Linked DNA regions of Homo sapiens. The protein of the gene in region 1 interacts with the protein of each later gene in a pairwise test. Each region holds a gene or a part of one and is shown in the gene's direction. Other genes may lie near its edges.

Region 1 (7,028 bases):
GCCTTTACAGCAGCAAATTATTTTCTCTGCCCCATAGGTAGAGTAGTTAAGGTCCAGAAGGTTTAAATGATTTACCCTAGGTGTATAACTAGTTAAGTGTCAGAACAAAAAAAGCTAGACCTCAAGTCTGTTTACCACAGAGCCCATCGTACACACGTGGCCTTTTCTGAAATTAGGATAACTAGGTAAATGATCTTTCTTCTGTTTTTCTTCCTCTGTAGGTTTTTTGCCCTGACATCTCTTCGTCTTGTGTTTTTACTTGCATTTGGCTTGATGATCATTGTGTGTATTGATCAATGGAAGAACAAAATCTGGCCTGAAATAAAAGGTGAGTTTGGTAGCATTTAGAACAATCTGAACTGAAGATGGCCTTTCCTATAATTTGTACCTTTAGTATTAGGGGTTTATGAGGAGGTGTATGGAGCTGGGGACTGTCTTTTGAAGTCTGAATCATTTGCTTTAGGAGGCACTTGAAGGGCTTGTGCCCCAATTATGGTTCCTTAGAGCTGGGTTCTGCCCTTCCCATTGTTACTAAGCACAGGAAATCTGTACTCACCACCTGAGTTATTTTTGCCAACATAATGGCCTGAGGAATAAGTAGTCCTCAAATGAAAAATAATAAATTATCGTTATTGGACACTGCATCTTTATTGAGGCAGTACCTCTCAGGAATTCCTTTTACATTGCTCATTTGCAAAACACTAGGCTAGGCAATTGTGACTTATAGAAAGTACCATGATGGCCGGGCGCAGTGGCTAACGCCTATTAGTAACCCCTGCACTTTGGGAGTCCGAGGCGGGTGGATCACCTGAGGTCAGGAGTTCGAGCCCAGCCTGGCCAACATGATGAAACCCCGTCTAATAAAAATACAAAAAATTAGCTGGGCATGGTGATGCATACCTGTAATCTCAGCCACTAAGGAGGCTGAGGCAGGAGAATCACTTGAACCTGGGAGGCGGAGGTTGCAGTGAGCCGAGATCGTGCCACTGCACTCCAGCCTCGGTGACAAGAGCAAAACTCAGTCTCAAAAAAAAAAAAAAAGAAAGTACCATGACATGTGGTGTCTTTTTAAAAAGCTAATACATACATAAACAAATGAAAAATTAAGTGACAATTATAGACCAGCACCACAGATGTCACAGTGCAGTATGTGATTAGTATACTTAGCATGTATTTTTTCCCTAGCCTGAGAGTGGAACAAAGCAAAAGATTTGAACAGATTGAGAAAAAAGTCTGTTTCTAGAGAGTCCAGTGGCTTGATTAGTCTGAGGAACCAGAAGTTGCAAAGCATTTCCTGACATCAGAGAATTGATCATATGGCCAGGATGAAGGTTCATTAAAGGGAGTGCTAGGAAATAAAACTGAAAGTATGTTGGGATTAGGTTTTTTGTTGGTTTCTTTTCTTTTCTTTTCTTTTGAGACGGAGTCTCACTCTGTTGGCCAGGCTGGACTGCAGTGGCATGATCTTGGCTCACTGCAACCTCCGCCTCCCAGGTTCAAGTGATCCTCCTGCTTCAGCCCTGCTAGTAGCTGGGATTACAGGCACGCACCACCATGCCTGGCTAATTTTTGTATTTTTGTTAGAGACGGGGTTTTACCATGTTGGCCAGGCTGGTCTCGAACTTCTGACCTCAGGTGATCCACCCGCCTAGGCCTCCCAAAGTGCTGGGATTACAGGCGTGAGGCACCGCACCTGGCGCATTCTTTTTTTTCAGACAGAGTCTTGGTCTGTCACCCAGGCTGGAGTGCAGTGGCGCAATCATGGCTCACTGTGGCCTCAACCTTCCGGGCTCCAGCAATTCTCCCACCTTAGCCACCTGAGCAGCTGGGACTATAGGCACTTGCCACCATGTCCAGCTAATTTTTGTATTTTTTCTATAGATGGGGTTTCTCCATGTTGGTCAGGCTGGTCTTGAACTCCCAACCTCAGATGATCTGCCCGCCTCAGCCTTCCAAAGTACTGGGATTACAGACGTGAGTCACCGCGCCCAGCCCTATTCTTATTTTTTAACAAACTAGGTCTCACTGTGTTGTCCAGGTTTTGGAGTACAGTGGCATGATCATAGCTCACTGCAACCTCAAATCCCTGGGCTTAAGTGATCCTCCCACCTCAGTCTCCCAATTAGCTGGGACTACAGGTGCATACCACCACACCCAGCTAAGTAAAAAAAATTTTTTTTGAGACAGAATCTCACTTTGTTGCTCAGGCTGGAGTGCAGTGGCGCGATCTTGGCTCGCTGCAACCTCCACCTCCCAGGTTCAGATGATTCTCCTGCCTCAGTCTCCTGAGTAGCTGGGACGACAGGCGTGCACCACTACGCCCAGCTAATTTTTTTGGTATTTTTAGTAGAAATGGGGTTTCGCCATGTTGGCCAGGCTGGTCTTGAACTCCTGACCTCAAGTGATCCGCGTGCCTTGGCCTTCCAAAGTGCTGGGATTACCTGCGTGGGCCACCACGCCCAGCCGATAATAAAGATTAATTTAGTAGCATTTTTAGGACCACATGGAAGGAGGAAAAGTGGAACAGGATGACCTGTTAGGAGACTGTGGCAGTGTCTTTGTGAGAAGTAGTCAGAGAGGCCTCAGTGAATACAAATGATGGATGGCCTGGAGAGCTGTGAATAAGGAAGATCAAGACATAAATAGTTGGGGCCAGGTGCAGTGGATCATGCCTGTGATCTCAGCACTTTGGGAGGCCAAGGCAGGAGAATTGCTTGAGCCAAGGAATTTGAGACCGGCCTGGACAACGTGGCGAAACCTTGTCTCTACAAAAAATAAAAAAATTACCCAGGCATGGTGGTGTGCACCTGTGGTCCCCAGCTACTTGGGAGGCTGAAGTGGGAAGATCCCTTGAGCCCTGGAGGTTGAGGCTGCAGTGAGCCGTGATCGCACCACTGTACTCCAGCCAAGACAACAGGGCGACACCTGTCTCAGAAAATAATAATTGTTATATATGTATAATAAAAGACATAAGTGGATGGGGGTTAAAGCTAAGAGAGTGGCAGAATGGCATTACACTTAGCAGGCAAAGGCAGACAGGAAAGTTGGTTTGAAGGGGTGAGAGAGGAAAACTGATGTAGATTTTAGGCAGGTTAATTTTGAAGTGTTGGCAAGATATTCAAACCAGAGTATACAGGTTTTAAATACATGCCCATCATATTTTATAGAGACTTCAAGGAATCGTGTAGTTCATCTGCCTATCTAATGGCTGGTGAATCTCAAAAGACTTATACATCATTCAGGTAGATAATGGGTCTCCCCATTTTTTTTTTTTTTTGGTTAGAGACAGGGTCTCACTGTGTTTCCCAGGATGGACTTGAACTCCTGGGCTCAAGTGATCCTCCTGCCTCAGCCCCCCAAGGAGGCAGAACTATAAGTGAGCATCACTACACCTAGCTCTGGGTCTCTTTTTAAAGAGAACAGGCAGGCTGGGTGTGGTGGCTCACACCTGTAATTCCAGCACTTTAGGGAGGCTATGGTGGGTGGATCACCTGAAGTCAGGAGTTCAAGACCAGCCTGGCCAACATAGCAAAAACCTGTCTCTACTAAAAACACAAAAATAGCCAGGCGTGGTGGCAGGTGCCTATAATCCCAGCTACTTGGGAGGCTGAGGCAGGAGAATTGCTTGAACACCAGAGGTGGAGGTTGTAGTGAGCCAAGATCGTGCCACTGCATTCCAGCCTGGGTGACAGAGTGAGATTCTGTCTCAAAAAAATAAAGAGAACAGGCAGATTTCGGCTGGGTACGGTAGCTCACGCCTGTGATGCCAGCACTTTGGGAGGTGGAGGAGTTCGAGAGCAGCCTGGCCAACATGGTGAAACCCCATCTCTACTAAAAACACAAAAATTAGCCAGGTATGGTGGCGTGTGCCTGTAATCCCAGTTACTCGGGAGGCTGAGTGAGCTGAGATCACGCCACTGCACTCCAGCCTGGGCTACAGAGCAAGACCCTGTCTCCAAAAAAAAAAAAAATTAGCCGGGCATTGTGGTGGGTGCCTGTAGTCCCAGCTACTCAGGAGGCTGAGGCAGAAGAATGGGAGGCGGAGCTTGCAGTGAGCCAAGATCGTGCCACTGCACTCCAGGCTGGGCAACAGAGCGAGAAGACTCTGTCTCAAAAAAAATAAACACAACAGGTGGATTTCTAGGGTTGGAGTTGTTACAACGTACCTTGTGTAGCCTGGCACAGATTGATGTGTATGGGTATCCCAGACACACTCAAGGGGTGAGATGGACCATTTTTCTTGTACACCTTGGCTTTCAGCTGAGGTCATTAGAAGGGGGCTCAAATAGTCCATTTGGACCTCCCTTCCTTCCCCTCGAAAAATGAGTAGGCATAAGTGATTATTCCCTTGTCTGCAGCTCCCTAACTGGCAGTATAACACAGTGTCTCCTTTTTTATCGGCTATTACTGTTTTCTTTTCCCCAACCTATTAAAACTTGAGCTGTCAGACCAACAGCCTAACATTTTCATGTTTAGTTTTCCCTACCAACTAATGCTGGTGTTTGTTTTAATATTGTAGTGCCAAGACCCGACGCATTAGACAATGAGAGGTATGGAACACTAATTAAATCCCTTTTTGTTGCTCTGATTCATTCTCTTGTAATATTCTGGTTACATGTTGTTAACCCCATGTTCTGGACACACAGTGTAAACTGAGAACCTAGGCTGTTCCAAATGATCATTTTAACACATCCTAAAGTTCAGGCAGCAATATGTTGAGATGGCCTGTGTCCTCTGATCTTTACAAGAGAAGTTTCTGAAAAAGAAGCATTACAGTGCCCCATAACCTGACATGCCAGGGAATCAGCTGCATTATTCAGTCCCAGTGAGAAAACTTAAAGGCAGCTAACTTCATTTGTCTCCTGGCTTTTATACCAGGTCATTTAGTGTTTTCTGTGACCTCTGGCTATTTAAAGTTCCCGGTCAGAAAACACATTGGTTCCTGGCATCAGCAAGTCAAAGCCAAAGATTCCTCTTGTGTCTTACAGCTCCTGCTTTCATTTCTCAGTTCATCCACTCCATTTGTTTGATCCAAAGAATTTTCTCTGCTGTGGTTTATTTTGGTTTTGCTTTATTTATTTTCTTTCTAAGGGGCACATCCACCATTTCCTCCCCCTTAGCAGCAGTGGTGTCAGTCAGACTATGCTCACTTTTATCCCTGGATTGCAATCACAGGGAATTGGAATGGTCTGAGTGCAAGGAAGAAAACGTTTCTAAGCACAAAGGGCCTTGGAGCTGGGGACAGGTTTACACACGTGGATTGGGCTGCTTGCTCATAGGGTGGAGTTGTCAGAACAAGTTTGTCCTCCTTGTACCTAAATTCAGATTTCAACCTGGTGAGCCAAGAAGAAAGTCATGCTTCACCTCCAAAGCACCTGGGCCTAGTCACTCCCCAAACCCCATTTAAAACCGGAAGCACTGGCTGCCTGCACAGCAAGATGGGGGGACCCTCAACACCCTCCTTTCACAGCTCCCCCTTCTCTCTCCCATAGCTGGGGCTTTGTGCACCCTCGGTTGCTCAGCGTGCCCGAGCTCTGCCACCATGTAGCTGAAGTCTGGGTTAGTGGGACCATTTTCATAAGGAATGTTTTGCTTTTCAAAAAGCAAAACCCAGGCAAGGTAAGACTCTTCCCTTTTTCACTTTCATCTCTGGCCTCTCAGTTCAGTTCATGCTAAACTGAAACAGCTCCTTTACTATGTGTCTTCATTCAAGAAAGTAAAGACTATGATGTTCATAGAGACAAAAGGAAGCTATAGGAAAGGCCTTCTGACCAGCCATTAGGACTAACACAGGAGCTTGGTGACTGCTCATTTGGTGTGGTTGCCACTTAGATGAGGCCGTTTTCTTGCTTCAAGATAGGAAAGAAAGCTTTCTTGTGTACATTCTGTGTCATATTAAATATGTGATAGGTTGTTGTGTTTTTTTGGGTTTTGTGTGTGTTTCTGTTGACTTAAAAAACCACCACCAACATTGCTTTCAGAGAGAATTTTTGGCTAAGTCCTATTCAAACCAATTTCTTGGCAGGAAAGGTGCAGCCCTATGGGGTTAGCCATGTAAAAGGAGTTTGAATAGAAGGGGACATGCTCCTTTTCTTCCCAAACAGAATCACCTTTGGATGCAACAGTGGCTGCACGTCCATGCTTGACTTACAGAGTCTTTCTGTCATATCTCTACCCTAACCCTTCACACCCACCCCAGTCCCCTGCCATGTGACAGAAACTTAATACTCTTTCTTGATTCCCCAGTTCTGCTTGCTGAGCTGTGGGATACTGACCTTTTTGGCTGTCTTGGGCCGCTACGTCCCTGGGCTTCTGCTGTCCTACTTGATGCGTAAGTATGACATATACCTCCCCTACAAAGTATACCCTGCTCATAGCTTTCCAACTATGGCTAACTCTAGGTGTGGGGAGAGGACTGTTATATTTCAATTCTCTAGGATATGACCTTTGCATATTTTCATGACCTGTTTAGTGTCATGAAAATATCCTTCTTTAGCAGGCTCTCCACATACAAAGTTCATTTCTTACCAAGTCAGAAATTGATGAGGGTCCACTAACATATATTGTTGGTATTACCAACTATAAAGGACTGCCTGTCCCTGTTTAAGGAGAGAATTTTTAGAGCCAGGGTATTGTCAGCAGAACATAACTCTTAGGGGTTTCTCTGCTAGGTTCTATTTATGCCAGAGTACTTTTTTCCCACTTGGAGCATAGTTTTGTAAATTTAGTTACTTCCTGTTGGCATGTACTCAGCTTGCTTGGGGCTGGAAGAACTAAGTACTTATGCCTGTGGCTTTTGTATATCAAAACCTCGCATGATTTGTTGTGTAATTTCCATTTATGGCTCAGTGACACCCATTGCCAGGTTCTGCCCTTGGCCTGTCAGCAGCATACTGTGCTGTGCACAACCCTGCAGTAGGCTTTGTGGGTGGCTGTAGAAGTCCCTGCCCTCAAAGACTCCTTCATGTGTAGGGGAGACTGGTGAAGATGACTGGCAGACTTGGGCAGATCTGTTCCACACTTTGTGT
Region 2 (7,028 bases), on another chromosome or scaffold:
CTTTTGTTTCTGCAGGACAAAATGGGGTAGGAATTGACTGCAGGATTTAATGTGATTGGGGTTCTAACCTATTATTAGCGCTAAATAGCTGCGTGAACCGAAGCAGCTTATTTGACATTTTTTTCTTAGACTTTTTTAAAAAAAGTACTTGTCTCATAAAATGTAAATATCAAATAAGAATGAATCTAGAACTAGATTTATCCACTTTTTTGACTATATGTTCTCTTTTTTCTTTTCCCTGGAAGTAAAAAAAAAAAAAAAAAGAAAAACAAGGGTTAATTCAAAATTCAGCTACACTGGATGTTTGGCTCAGCTCTGGGTTTTACTTTTGAGTTAAACTGGACCCATCCTTTTTTTCCCCTTGGTGATTTGTTCTTCATAAACACTTTCTATAGTACAATTCAGAAAAAAATAGAGGCACACGGCTATTACTTCTACCATAATCTGCTGTTGAGGAGACATTCAGTGTGAGGATGGGGTCTGGAGGTGGGGGACGTGTTTGGTTAACAGGATAACGGCCTCTGTGATGAACTGTGCAAAAATCCCATCAGTCAACATCTGATTGCAGCCAGATGGTCAAGGCTCATGGTGGAAGAGTTGTAGTGAGCCAAATACTCCTTTAGTTCCCCACAGCCCTAGGGTAGGCCCTAATTGGGCCCATTCTTTCTTCACTGAGATCTATATAAGTGGGTACTAAAAATGGAACTGACAATGTAGTATAACTGCTATGATGGCTTCTTTATTTTTATAAACTTTTTTTTTTTTTTTTTTTTTTAGCAATCATCAAGGTGCTACCCCTTTAGTTCTGGCAAAGCGCAGAGGAGTAAATAAAGATGTCATCCGATTGCTGGAATCTTTGGAAGAACAGGAGGTGAAAGGATTTAACAGAGGAACCCACTCGAAACTGGAGACCATGCAAACAGCTGAGAGTGAAAGGTACTGGAGATACAACTTTTTTTTTCTCACTGTATTACTCATTCCTTGAACTCCTGGGCTCAAGCATTCTTCCTGCCTCAGCCTCCTGACTAGCTGGGACTATAGGCACATGTAGCCACACCCAGCAAGATAATACGATTTTTTAAGGGGAAAGTCACTTTAAGTATGTGGATTTATGGTTAACTTTGTGAACTTTAATATTCATTTGCTTTTAAGTGCAACTTGAACTTTATATAGGACCTTATGACTGCAGATTACAATTGAGAAGCTATTAACAGAAAGTACTACATGTCATGTGCGCATAATGTTCTGTTAGCCACCTGCTGTATTGACAGTACAAAGGAGAAATAGTAACAAATGAATCTGAGGGGAGGAAGCCGGAGCTTGATGATTTTAAGTACAGGTCACAAAAAGAATGGAATTTCAAAAAAAAGAGAAGTATAAGTAAAGCCAAGAACTTGGGCAATTTTAGAAAAGACTGAAAGGTAGTTTCAAGGGTAGGGAAGTGGAATGCTGAGAAACAAGAAAACAAGAGAGGGAAAGCAAGATAGTATTTAACACATGCACAGTTCAGTAATGTGAAAGTGAAAGTGACTTTCATATGAGTTGGAGCTAATGAAATTTGGATTCCTGTGAGTAATCGAAGCTAAGATGTGGTAACTGACAGGGTCTTGAATAGCTCATCATTTCTCATCTAGAAGCAATGGAGAATGCAGTTCAGAGAGCTCCAAAAAGGTGGCGCACCATCTTTTCTCCTGATGTCACTGGGCTCAACAGGTAAAGTTAATAGGCCAGACTTAGTTCTAGTAGCATATTATCTGGTTGACCACCATGCAGTTTCAGCCTTCCACATTATACGTGTGAAGGAAAAAGGATGCTGAGCTTCCATAGCCTCTTCCCAGTATTCTCGGTAGGTTGTAAATAGAATAAGCAAGGGCCCACATCAGCTGTTTACCTAGTAGCTGATGGACTAGGACTTGGATTTAGAATCACATAATCCACTTAGACCATTGGGATCATTGTTTCTGTGAGTTCTAAATGAAATCCTCTCTGTTTTTCATAGCTTACCCTTCATTTGATTCCTTTGTACCCATTTTTGCTTTCCTCCTCTCGTGTGCCAGATGATGTGCTCTTTGGGGACCATTAATTCCACTCTCAAGCTTAGGTCTATTTTGTTCAGATACTTTCAAGCACTTTAATACAGTCCTAAAGAAATCCAAGAGCTTTACTTCTGGAACAGTGCATACTCCTCTTGAGTGATCACTGAAAGCTGACAAATAGATAATCAAGAAGTCAGAGATGTATTTGCAAGCCCTTGTTTTTCTCTCCTCTGTACTTTGGATTGACAGAATGGCATAAGCACTTTAACAATATTGAGTTAACTATTATTTGTTAAAGATTTTTTCCTCTAAGATAACTTGAAATTTATTTTTATCTTTTTATGAAATAACATTAAGTACTTTAAGCTTCTTTACCATGAAAAACAACCAAGAATGTGTTCTTGTTTGGTATATTTTTAGGATCTTTATTTTGTTAATAGCCAGTTTCTTGGCACCCTTTTATTAGAAATATACTTTTAGCATTAGTTTGCCTCAGTTGTGATTACTTACTAAGAAGTGATAAGTACAAAATAATATTCCATTGGATGAGCAGTGGAAGTACTCCTGCTTCCTTCACATACCTGCCATTTCACTGCAGCATGAGAGTTTGTATTAATTGTAACACTGTATAAAGCTCGTTTTTCAAAAATTGAGTTATTAACACTTTTATTACCTAGTTTTCCTATCTTACTCCTACCCCTCAGTGTCATGGTAGAAATTCAGTGGTTGAAGCTTAAATCAGAAAGTTGAAAGGTAATGTCATTAGGAAAATGCAAATGAGGACCATAGTGAAATGCCACTTCACACCCACTAGGATAGCTGCAATTAAAAAGATAGATAATAACAAGTGCTCTGGAGGATGTGGAGAAATTGGAACCCTCATACACTGCTGATGGGAATGGAAAGTAGAGCAGCTTCTTTGGAAAAGTCTGGCAGTCCTTCAAAAAGCTACACGTAGAGTTACCATCTGACCAGCAGTGCCACTTCTAGGAATATACCAAAGAAAATTGAAACATATGTCCACACAAAACTTATATATGAATGTTCATAGCAGCATTATTCATAATAGCCAAAACATTGATACCACCCAGATATCCATCAGCTGATGAAGGAATAAACATCATCTGTTCATCCAATGGAATATTACTAATATTATTATATTATACTGATACATGCTACAGCATGGATAAATTTTGAAAACATGCTACATTGGAGAAGCCAGGCACAAAAGGCCACATATTACATGATTCTGTTTATGTGAAATGTCCAGAATAAGCAAATCCATAGAGACAGAAAGTAGATGAGAAAGTAGACTAGAAGCTGGGAGAAGGGGCAATGGGAGTGACTGCTAATAGGTACAGAGTTTCTTATAGAGGTGCTGAAAGTGTACTGGAATTAGAAGAGATGGTTGTACAATTTGGGGAATATATGAAAAGCCACTGAATTGTACAGTTTCAAAAGGTAAATATTATGGGATGTGAATTATGTCTCAATAAATGTAGATGAAAAAGTTTAAAGAGATTGGCTAGCACATGGCATTATGGCATAATTGTGTAATGGCTTTTTCTAGAGCAGAAGATAAAGCAGGGTTTTAAATGTATTTACTATAATATTTTCCATTTCTCTTAGGATTCCCCCAAGACAGCACAACTTCTGCAGGCCTTATAAGGGACTATAAATCAAGTTAATGAAAAATATTTCCCCACTCCTCCATATAACTCTAAGTTTAATTCCTTTTTACTTTGTAGGTATGGGATAACAAAAACAGTATAGCTATCACATTTTTTAAAAAAGATACATGCAAACACACCCCCCAAAGACAGTGTAGATATCACGTTTTTAAAAAAAGATTATACACACACCCCATTATGTTAGAATCAGATATTCCCTGGACAGTAGAAAGCATTTCATTGGATAAAGTCTTTATAGAATATCCCGATTGGCAGAGCTTCATGAGCTCTGAAGAACAATGAGAATGCTCATGGAATTTTCATTTTATACCTAACATGTATAAGGGCATGTCAACTCGTAATCAATAAATTTTACATAGGTCAAACTAAGCCTCTGCAGAACTGTGTTATCTATTTGTGGTTTTACTCTTTTAGGCCTTCTCAAAGTTCTAATCTTATTTTTAAACTTGCTGTCAAGTGTTCCAAAATTACTGTGGTGTTGTAGATTCCCACTGAAAACATCATCTCTTATTCAGAGAATAAACATGTTTTAATTATTAAAAAAAAAAAAGTTTGGGTGTTAAGCAGACTGGCCCATTAGGAAGTCAGTTTCCCATGATCAGAGAAGACCTCTAATGTTGGTAAAGGCTGAAGGACTTTTGTTTGATGGTATCAAGAAGTAAAATAAAGTTGTAGGTTAAAAAATGTCAGTTTTGCATGTTTATTCATAGTTCATAATGAATGAGACTCTAAGATACTGTTTTATGGGAGTTAGGAAGGATAGTAATGAACTTTGATAACCAGTAGATAGTTGATTCCTATGATCATGGTTATGGTGGCTTTAATCTAAATGATACCCTCTTATTGGGCCTGTATGTTGTGATATAACCATGAGTGCTCTTCCCTTAGTGCTTCCAAGTACCAAAGTCAGATGCAGTTTCTCTTTGTGGTAGTCGTATTTCTCATTGATAAAGTTCTGAAAACCAGAATCAGTGTTTTTATGGTATTTGCACTACCTTATTTTCAACTAGACTAGCCTTTATGCAGAAGAGAAATGAACATATTCTGTCTTACTGTACAAGATAGAACTAACACCAATAGGAAGAAACTATTAAGAATTCCTAATGACTAGGCCAGCTGTGGTGGCTCATGCCTGTAATCCCAGCACTTTGGGAGGTCAAGGCAGGTGGATCACCTAAACTCAGGAGTTCAAGACCAGCCTGGGCAACATGGCGAAACCCTGTCTCTACCAAAAATACAAAAATTAGCCAGCCATGGTGGCATGCACCTGTAGTCCCAGCTACCTGGGGGGCTGAGGCAGGAGGATTGCTTGAGCTGGGGAGGTGGAGGTTTCAGTGAGCTGAGATCGCATCACTGTATTCCAGCCTGGGCGGCAGAGTGAGATTCTGTCTCCAAAAAAAAAAAAGAATTTCTGATGACTAGACGAGTCCACATGTACAACAGGCTGAGGAGTAACCTTCCATTATTAGAGAATTACAATTAAAGAAGGAATTCCTTCATTGGTCAGATTATTGAACTAAATTAATAAAAATTCCCTTTTAACTTCAAGATTCACACACACTGTATAAGTGACTTTTTAGATTTACTCATCTTCCCCCCTCCCCCCAACAGACATTTACTTTCTCAGTTCTAGGGCCTAGAAGTCTGAGATCAAGGTGTCACAAAGTTGGTTTCTTCTAAGGCCTCTCTGCTTGACTTGTAGATGACTGTCCTCTTCAGGTGTCATCACCTGCATGTCTGCTTATTCGTATTAACACATTCTTAAATTATGAGTCTGCACTTTGAATCTTCTAAATTTAACATAACAAGAATGTGTTGTGGTTTAATATCTTGATGGAGACAACTCATAACCTATTTCAAGACTTCTGCTCAGGACACCTTAAAAAAAAATAGAGATGGTGTCTCGCTATGTTACCCAGGCTGGTCCCGAACTCCTGGGCTCAAGTGATCCTCCCTCCTTGGCCTGCAAAAGTGTCGGGATTACAGGCATGAGCTACCACGCCCAGCCAGGACCTTTTAAATAGAATTTTTAACTTGAGTTTACTAAATTCTAAACCAAGAGAAACATACTCATTACCATTTAGCAATTTACAGTTTAGTATATATTGTTCAGATACGTAAGCATGTAAGAGTGTGTATATATATATATGTGTGTGTGTGTGTGTGTGTGTGTGTGTGTGTGTGTGTGTATTTGGTCTTTTCTAAATAGTAGCCCTGTGGTTTTATGTTTTTGGAATTGCTGTGTTTTTTTAATGCCCTTTTTGCTCTTTCTTCTTCCACAGTGCCATGGAAAGCCATTCACTCCTCAATCCCAACCTGCAGCAAGGTGAAGGAGTCCTCTCCAGCTTCCGAACCACGTGGCAGGAGTTTGTGGAGGATCTGGGCTTCTGGAGAGTATTGCTGTTGATCTTCGTCATTGCTTTGCTGTCTCTTGGCATTGCTTATTATGTGAGTGGGGTGCTACCCTTCGTGGAAAACCAGCCTGAACTGGTGCATTAAAGGAGCTCATGGAAGATGAGGCAATTAATTGCCTGTTTCCTGGCTTCCAATGTTTGTTCTCAGTTTCTCAGAATTTTTCTTAGCGCAAAGCAGTGAGGGCAGTACATGTTCTTTTTGCATTTTTAATTATTGTAATCCTTTTAGATAATGATGTGTTCATTTGAACTAACTACATACTATGATCAAGTATATTGCATCCTAACGCTACCTCTGACTCAACCTGACTTTGTAGGAAAGCCTACACGTAGCCTTGTTTGATAAAAACACGGAAGTGACTAGAGAATGGAAGATAAAGGAAGAAGCTAGGAAGTCCTTGCTATCAAAACCTTATCCTAATATAGGACCAATTGAAGTATTCAAAAAGAAAAACAGTATCTTATATGATTAGTTTTTGTTGGTGGTTTTGTTTTCATTTATTTTTGCAAGAGCCACTTTTTATTTACTTTCTCTAGGGATAAGAGATAAAACTTGAAGTACTTTTTTCAAATCTTGTGTGCAAATTAGTATTGTTAGCATCTATTTGGCTTATTTTAGTATTTTTAAGTCTAGTCACAAACCAAACAAAACTTTTGAAAATGAGCTATATTTTGTTCAAAGATAATTGATTTGATCTTATATTTATTTGTTTTTAGGATAATTTTTGATCTTTTTGTAAACTGCTTTGCTTGTTAATATCTGTGAAAAATAAATGAGTTCATTTTGTTCACTTTCCAATTTTCCCGAGTATCCTAGTCATCAAAGATAACAGTTCATCAGAATTACAGTCAGAAAATCCTTTTTCTACTGAATAGTTAGCAGGGAA

What was found. The genes of interacting proteins can lie anywhere in the genome.
Region 2: the proteins of RETREG3 (region 1) and ANKRD46 interact in binary tests that used the Homo sapiens proteins (3 or more experiments, as listed by UniProt).

What each region holds. Positions count from the first base shown.
Region 1 is NC_000017.11:42,585,356-42,592,383, reverse strand, and holds part of RETREG3 (reticulophagy regulator 3), read left to right. Parts: intron 1-221; coding exon 222-328; intron 329-4,519; coding exon 4,520-4,550; intron 4,551-5,492; coding exon 5,493-5,619; intron 5,620-6,246; coding exon 6,247-6,331; intron 6,332-7,028. UniProt on the Homo sapiens protein: Endoplasmic reticulum (ER)-anchored autophagy regulator which exists in an inactive state under basal conditions but is activated following cellular stress.
Region 2 is NC_000008.11:100,521,753-100,528,780, reverse strand, and holds part of ANKRD46 (ankyrin repeat domain-containing protein 46), read left to right. Parts: intron 1-777; coding exon 778-936; intron 937-6,009; coding exon 6,010-6,226; 3' UTR 6,227-7,028.